Linked DNA regions of Homo sapiens. The protein of the gene in region 2 purifies or fractionates together with the protein of the main gene of each other region. This does not show direct contact. Each region holds a gene or a part of one and is shown on either strand. Other genes may lie near its edges. The genes, in order: HIP1R and GLS2.

Region 1 (3,808 bases), about 66 Mb from region 2:
CCTCAGACAGTGGAGTGTTTCCTTATTTATCACCCTCTCCCCTCACCCAGCAGTCAGCAACACGAGGGGAAGCAGATCGGCCTATAGGTGCTGCTGAACCCCCAGCTCCTCAACAGTGCCTGGCATGCAAATGACTTTCATGGCAGGAGGGAGGCCCCAGGAATGCAGTGTGACGGGGCATGCCTTGGGCACATGGCATGGTCTCCTGTGCGCCTGGGCCTCAGTGCTGCCTGCTCCCCGCGCTGGCGGCAGGGGACAGGATCCGTGGCAGCAGGGCCCTCCCGGGCAGGGTGCCGGCTGGCTCTGGGAACACAGCCCCGTTGTGTCTAGGATGGGCAGATGTGTGCACCAGGCTCAGAGCGCCACACAAGGAGGCACAGTGCTCGCACAGTGGGAGTCTGTGGCTGCTCCGTGGGCCTCGCCTCTGACCAGGCAGTAGCAGCTAAGCCCTGTCCCGGGAGAAGCCCGCCAGGTCCCAGTGATGTCCCACCTACTCCCGTCTGCTGCTGACCCTCCCTTGCGGAAGTGGCTCCAGGGTTCTGAGGGCCGCAGCAGCAGGCACTCGGGCTCACTCTGTGGTGAGACCCACACGGTGTCCTTGACGCAGCTCCGCTCTGAGGCTTACAGTCCCGAGGCAGGTCCAACTGCCAGCAATACTTGGTTCTGGGTCCTGAGGTTCTCAACATGCTGTCCTCACAGCTGCCGAGTGGGGTGAACGTAGTTCTCCCCATTTTGAAGGTGGGGAAACTGCAGCGTGCCATGGGAGGTAGAGGGCTGCCCAGGCCTGTCCCTGGGTTCTCTAGCCTGCATTTGTGCCCCATGTGGCCCCTCGGGCAGAACAACCCCAGCAGCTCTGACACAGGCCAGAGGCTGGCTGGTCAGCTGCCAGAGACACCCCTTCAGGGCAGCGCAGCCTTTGAGGAGTGGAAGGGATTGATTATGGACCTCAGCTCAGGGTGGAAAAACCCAGTGCTAGAGAAAGGAAGATCATAAGGACACATGTGACCGCCCCGGGGTCTGTCCGCTACTCAGCACCCACAGCTCCCATCCAGCTCCCAAGAGGCAGGGGCCTCACACACAGCCTGGCAGGGCAGTTTCCACACAGCTGTGAGTGGCTGTGGGACCAGGGCTCTGCAGGGGATGCAGTGATAATGTGCAGCATGAGAGCATGAGGAGGAGGATGCTGTTCTTCCCACTGCTGGGCACAACAGGGAGGGGTGTCTGGCTGGGTCAGGGGAGGTCTCTGGAGGAAGCAGGACAGAAGTGATAATGGAGGGGGACCAGGCACAGTGGCGCACGCCTATAATCCCAGCACTTTGGGAGGCTGAGGTGGGAGATCACTTGAGCCCAGGAGTTCAAGGCCAGCCTAGCAAGACCCCATCTCTACCAAAAATAATTTAAAACTTAGCCGGGTGTAGTGGTGCACGGCTGTAGTCCCCTGCTACTTAGAAGGCTGAGAATGGCTTGGGTCCAGGAGTTCCAGGCTGCAGTGAGCCATGATAGCACCACTGCACTGCAGCCTGGGTAACAGAGTGAGAACCTGCCTCTAAAAAGTAAAAATAATAGGCCAGGTGTGGTGGCTCATGCCTGTAATCCCAGCACTTTGGGAGACCGAGGCAGGTGGATCACTTGAGGTCAGGAGTTTGAGACCAGCCTGGCCAACATGGCGAAACTCCCACTAAAAATACAAAAATTAGCCGGGCATGGTGGTGTGTGCCTGTAATCCCAGTTACTCAGGAAGCTGAGGCAGAGAATCGCTTGAACCTGGGAGGCTGCAGTGACCAAGATCATGCCACTGCACTCCAGCCTGGGCAACAGAGCTAAACTCCATCTCAAACAAAACAAAACAATAATAGAGAGTTCCACAGCGCCGTGAGACACCTTGCAGAAGGGAGTTGGAGGGTCCGCAGAGACAGCAGAGAGGGGCAGAAGCAGAGTGAGGTCAGCTCCTGCCTGGTTCCACAGACCCTGCAGCTTTTCGGGTCTCGAAAAATCCTCGGAGTCCACACCCACGCCCCAGGGGCCACCTGCTCACAACTCTCTGAGCCTGCTCTTATCCTGCCCAGTGCTGGCAGCAGGAGGGGCCTGACCTTTAAGGACAGAGAGTGGGGACAAAGCTCAGGGGCACCCAGGGGCCCAGGGGGCAGGTGAGGCTCTGCAGATACACTCAGGATAGCTGGCATCGCCAAGTGTGTAAGAACATACTCTATGCCATAAGGCCAGCAGACAGGTCTCAATAACCTATTAATAAATTCAATTTTATTGAGCTCAGCCTTGTACTGGGCCCCCGAGCAGACAGCATTGTTCCAGTGTTGCCTCATTAATGTTCACAAGGAACCTCGGAGCAGGTGGGCAAGGGAGGACATTGAGGCTGCAGGTTAACCACCTGTCCAAGGTCATAAATAACAAAAAGATGTGGGCCAGACATGGACCAGAGATGGAGATGGAGCCCCTCAGGCCCCTCCCAGGCGGCCCTGGGCTGCATGGCCTTCACAGTTCAGGGTGCGGGCTAGGCCTGGGTGTGGGAGAAGTGTGTCAGCATAGACATCCTTATCGTCCCACCACAGGAGCCCCACTCCCCAAGGGCCTGCTAACATGCCTCCAAATTGCGAGTGGGCTCCGGATCAGGATTTGTTCAAATCTCAAGTTAACGAAGGCCTTGGGGCTGGCAGAGCCAAGGGCCCTTCCCACTACCCCCATCCCTTGGGGCGAGGGCATCTGCCTCTGGGCTGCGGCCTTCAGCTCAGTCCAGTGGCCAGGGGGAGCCCAAGCCCTCAGGATACACCTGCCCTGCTTCCAGGAACAATCAGGCCAGACAGAGCCCGCTGACTCGTGAGCAGCCCAGAGCTGCACTGGTCCCTGGACTGAGACTCATGGGGCACACCCCAGCGAGCATCTCAGTGAGTGCTGCCTCAGAAGAGGGGAGATCAGGGTGAGGCAGGGGACGCTCCCGAGAGGCTGCTGGCCCAGGCCTGATGTGGAGTCCAGATGGAAACAGACCGCAGGAATGGGCACTGTCAGCAAAGCCAGGCAACTGAGCTGGGAGGCTCCAGGCAGCGGCTGCCCCACACGCCAACCCCGCGGCACCCTGTGGCCCAGGAGGCTCCGGAGTTGTCTGTCCACCGATCATACTCTGTCCCCACCTCCAACCCCCGAATACAGGGACATCTTCCTTCCTGCTGTATCTCTAGGCCCAAACCAACATCTGGCTGTCAGCAAATCCCCACTGGGCAAATGGAAGGGTGAACACTCGAAGGACAAGAGCTCTTTCAAAGACAAGTACTGGACGACTTCAGGGCACTGAGTCTCTCCTTCTCCAGCTAATAATTTATCCACTAGAGCTGCAGAGTAAAAGTAATTATAAAACAATTTCTATTTTTAAAATCAACGCTGAAATGAATCAGACGTAAGCCTCCCTGTGCTGTATTATCGTGGCACCTAACAGCAGCACTTGGCAGGGACAAGAACGTTCTTCAAAGAGCTGGGGCACACGGACGGACGCTGGCAGAGCGGTAGGTTATTTTGCTTTAACATTTCCAAAGAGTTGGTTGAAGGACAGAGAGATCTCATTCAAATGCGTCTGTCCCCTCAAAGGCCATTGACAGAGCAAACACAGGGTTTCTGTAGCTGAGGAGGCCGGGATATGGCCACACGCAAAGCAGCGAGGCGGACAGCTGGGTCAGCTCCAGCAGACAGGAAGTCAGGGGCAACTGCTCCGCTCCATTTAACCTGTATCTCCCCTCACTCTCACCCAGGCCTGCTTGGTCCTGGCCACTCCGTCATTTCAGCGTTTAGGAAAGCTCCCGAG
Region 2 (3,808 bases):
CGAGGAACTTGGTGTTTTTGAGAAACTCGTCTAAGGAGTCTCAACCTAATTGCCTTCCTGGAAGTTAGTGAATGAGAGGCAGGAACAAGCTTCCACCTCTATCTTGAGAGAGTCAGTGTTCTCTCTTCTTAGCACTGGGCTCATGACAGATGGATAGCAGAGCCAGAAACTCACGTGGAAGGCAAACTGGCCAGAGAAGTCATACATGCCGCAGGAATGCATGAGGCTGAGGGTGTTGCGCACTGCTTCAGCACTCAGCACACTCTCGCCTGTGATGGGGCAGATCCCACCGTTGGCGAGGGTGGCTGCCATGACACTGCCTGATTCACAAGTGACCTCCACAGAACACAGCTATGAAAACAAAGAATAGGTGAAGATGTGACGTGAACCTGCACATGGGACCCTCGGGTGTAGGGAAAGGGCAAGGGCAAGGACAGTCTGTCCTGTTCCCTCGGCCCTGAGCAGTGTTTTCTTACCTGGAAGTAGAGATCAAGGGCAGCCATCATGTCCACCCCCTTAGGAAAGCACTGCAAGGAAGAGAGGGGAGAGCATTTCTCTTCAGGACATCAGCCCTTTCACACTGTCAGGGTCTCAGCTGAAGCCCCCAACCCCTACTGCCCTTCCACTAGCAGCAGAATTCCCAGGGACTTTCTCTTCCGGCCTCTTCTGGTTACCTTCTTTTCCTTGAGATAATAGCCGATGGCATAATTCCGATCCCCTGTTTCCTTCTCTGACTGGAATCTGAAGCAAACACCCAATTTAGTACTTGAAGTTGGAGGAGTGGGTGTTGGGAGAAGGGGAAAAATTACCTTCCCTGGAGAGACAGAACTACATCACACCACAAACTAAATGAACCCCTTTATAACTTCTCACAGTAATATTAGAGGAAATTTCTGAACCTGAGCAAACACTCAGCATAGTTTTGTTATAAAGTAAACCCAAACCAAACACCCCAAACTGTCTAGTCATCTAGGAAAACTGGTGAAGTTTTTGGCTTTGAAAGTCTTGGCAAGAAAGGGCTTAGGCACAAACCATCACACTGCCTCTCTCATTATGTACTAATTAGAAATGGAACAAATTATTTTACAAGATAAACAAATGTTTATGAAGGGACTCAGAGGAAGCTGGAGGGCCAAAGTTCCCCTGGGATTTCTTCCTCCTAAGATTCTCTCTCCCCCATTCCTCTTGTCCCCATCCTAAGTACACACACATACACCACAATGCTTTCAGTCAGTCCTCTGAGTAGGGACTTACGTGGCATTGCTGAAACCCATGTATTCATTCCCAGCCATTTTGTTGAGATACTGCAACACCTGGAAGAGAAAAAGGGACATTGAGGCTCCACTTGGTTAAGAAGCTCTATTAATACCTCACAGGTTGACTAGCCCTTCTGAACTCAGGTCTTGTCAAGAGGCTTTCCTCTCTGAGGCCAGCAGATTTCCACATTTCTGGAAATAAGGCTTCTAGTATGGGCTGGTGCACCTGGTAGTGGGGTTAGAGAGCCACTGGGGCAGCTGGAGAGGACAGCATGCCATGGCGAAATGCAGCCAGGGGCTAAGTAGCAAGGGAACTTACAAAATCAAACTTCTCTGCTTTGTTACAGTCCATCTGCAGAGAAAGAGAGAGATGTCAGCATTCTAAGTGTAGGAGGATGACAGAGGGAAGGGTCAGAAGGATCTAGTGGAGTTCTAGTGTTAGTCTGGTCCTGCTGCTGCAAATGTGTTCAATTTTATAATGGCCCTTTTTTTATCCTTCTGAAAACACCGCACTTCCATTGGCTCCTCTCTTTCTCTTTCTTTTTTTTGAGACAGTCTTGCTTTGTCACCCTTGTCACCCAGGCTGGAGTGCAGTGGCACGATCATGGCTCACTGCAGCTTTGACCTCCCAGGCTCAAGCGATCCTCCCACTTCAGCCTCCAAGTAGCTCGGATTACAGGCATGAGCCAGCTTGCTGGGCCATCCCACTTCCATTCTCAATCCAAACCCTCATCCCTGACTCCCACGTTCATTTTCCTGACTCGAATCCTGTCTCCTAGCCCCACCCTATCCCTGATCTCCATCCCCATTCCTTACACCCCATGCTGGAGCTTTACTCCATCCCATTGGCCAGCATGATGGTTCATGCCTGTAATCTCAGCAATTTGGGGGGCTGAGGCAGGAGGATCGCTTGAGACCAGGGGTTTGAGACCAGCCTAGGCAACATAGGAGAGACCCTGCCTCAATTTTTTTTTTTTTTTTTTTTTGAGATGGAGTCTTGCTCTGTCGCCCAGGCTGGAGTGCAGTGGCAGGATCTCGGCTCAACTGCAAGCTCCGCCTCCCGGGTTCATACCATTCTCCTGCCTTAGCCTCCCGAGCAGCTGGGACCACAGGTGCCCACCACCAAGCCTGGCTAATTTTTTGTATTTTTAGTAGAGACGGGGTTTCACCGTGCTAGCCAGGATGGTCTCGATCTCCTGACCTCGTGATTTGCCCACCTCGGCCTCCCAAAGTGTTGGGATTACAGGCGTGAGCCACCGCGCCTGGCCTCTATATTTTTTAAAAAAGGTCCTACTTAGATGGGAATGGGATGAGGCAGGTCCCAGATACAGGTTTGTAGATGGAGCCATCACAGAACAAGGGGAGAGACTCAGCCTCTTTTCCTCACCCAGACTCATTGCTTACTCATGTGTCAACTACAGAGTCAATACCACAGGGACTCTGATACCTGAGTCCCTGAGGGGAGGATTCCTAACACCACCTTCCCCAGGAGGGGCTGTGATTGGCTCCAGGGTGTTGCTGCCCAGCTGCTCCCAGGTTCTTGCTCAAGCCCTGGGAGACCTACAGCTGATGGGCTAGTCTGACACCCTGTTCAAGGCCAACTCACAGTTCCAGGTGACGTGAATAACTGCCCTGGCCTGGCCATTCACCCTTGCCTGCAGGTGTCCCACACCCAGAAGTGGCCAATCAGTGCCCAATAGTGCTGTCCTCCCCTTGTCTCTGGCATTTGGCCCTTGGTCCTAGGCAGGGGTCAGGACCTGCTCACTTCTCTAAGGGTCAGAAAGCTCTAGGCTCTAGACTCATGGGTGGGGGCAGGGAACAGTACTGAGTGGGGATGACGGAGGTGGTGCAGTCTCTTATACTGACATTGTCAGCATAACATGTGGGTCCCTGCTGTGCCTCATGTGCCTTCTGGGGACCCTCAAAGGAATCAGAGCCCCACCAGTCTCCCTGGAGAGCTGAACAAATATGAGGGATACAGGAACACAGGAGCTTAGAGGATAATACCTATCAGAAGGTTAAGGTGGCACTGACCTTGATCAGGGAGCTGACAACAATGGCACCAGCATTGACCATGGGGTTATGGGGGATTCCTGGGGAAATACAAACCACCAAGAGTCTTAGCCACTGAACAAAGCCTCCCTGACAGCCCGCTCACTTTGTGGGTTAGACAAGAAAGACTGCTAGGGAGAAAGGCATGACAGGGCTAATCAGGAAGGGCAGAGAAACAAAAAAGGCTGGGAGATGGGGTGGGGATAAGGAGAAGGGGACAGCTGTAAGTACGGTCTGAGCCTTGGTAGTGCTCACCTTCCTCATTGAGGGAGAGCTTGTTGTAGCGCAGGCCACTTGGCTCTTTGCCCACAAACTTGTGCACGTAGTCAGTGCCTAGGGTGCTTATGGAGATGGCATAGGTGAGGGGCTTCACACAGGACTGCAGGCAGAAGGGGATCTTTGTGTGGCCCACAGAGTGCCTGGAGGCAGACAGATGCCATGAAAGGGGTTGGCCTGTGTTCGGCACCTGTGCCCTGCCTCCCCTTCCTCTTGCCCAGCAT

The links.
Region 1: the proteins of GLS2 (region 2) and HIP1R purify together in Homo sapiens (affinity purification with mass spectrometry; one large-scale study listed by BioGRID and IntAct). This does not show direct contact.

Annotation. Positions count from the first base shown.
Region 1 is NC_000012.12:122,841,896-122,845,703, reverse strand, and holds part of HIP1R (huntingtin-interacting protein 1-related protein), read right to left. Parts: intron 1-3,808. UniProt on the Homo sapiens protein: Component of clathrin-coated pits and vesicles, that may link the endocytic machinery to the actin cytoskeleton. Binds 3-phosphoinositides (via ENTH domain).
Region 2 is NC_000012.12:56,474,370-56,478,177, forward strand, and holds part of GLS2 (glutaminase liver isoform, mitochondrial isoform 1 precursor), read right to left. Parts: exon of another isoform or gene 3,728-3,808; coding exon 3,564-3,727; exon of another isoform or gene 3,350-3,563; coding exon 3,291-3,349; exon of another isoform or gene 1,609-3,290; coding exon 1,576-1,608; exon of another isoform or gene 1,314-1,575; coding exon 1,255-1,313; exon of another isoform or gene 815-1,254; coding exon of another isoform or gene 742-814; coding exon 675-741; exon of another isoform or gene 528-674; coding exon 477-527; exon of another isoform or gene 352-476; coding exon 175-351; exon of another isoform or gene 1-174.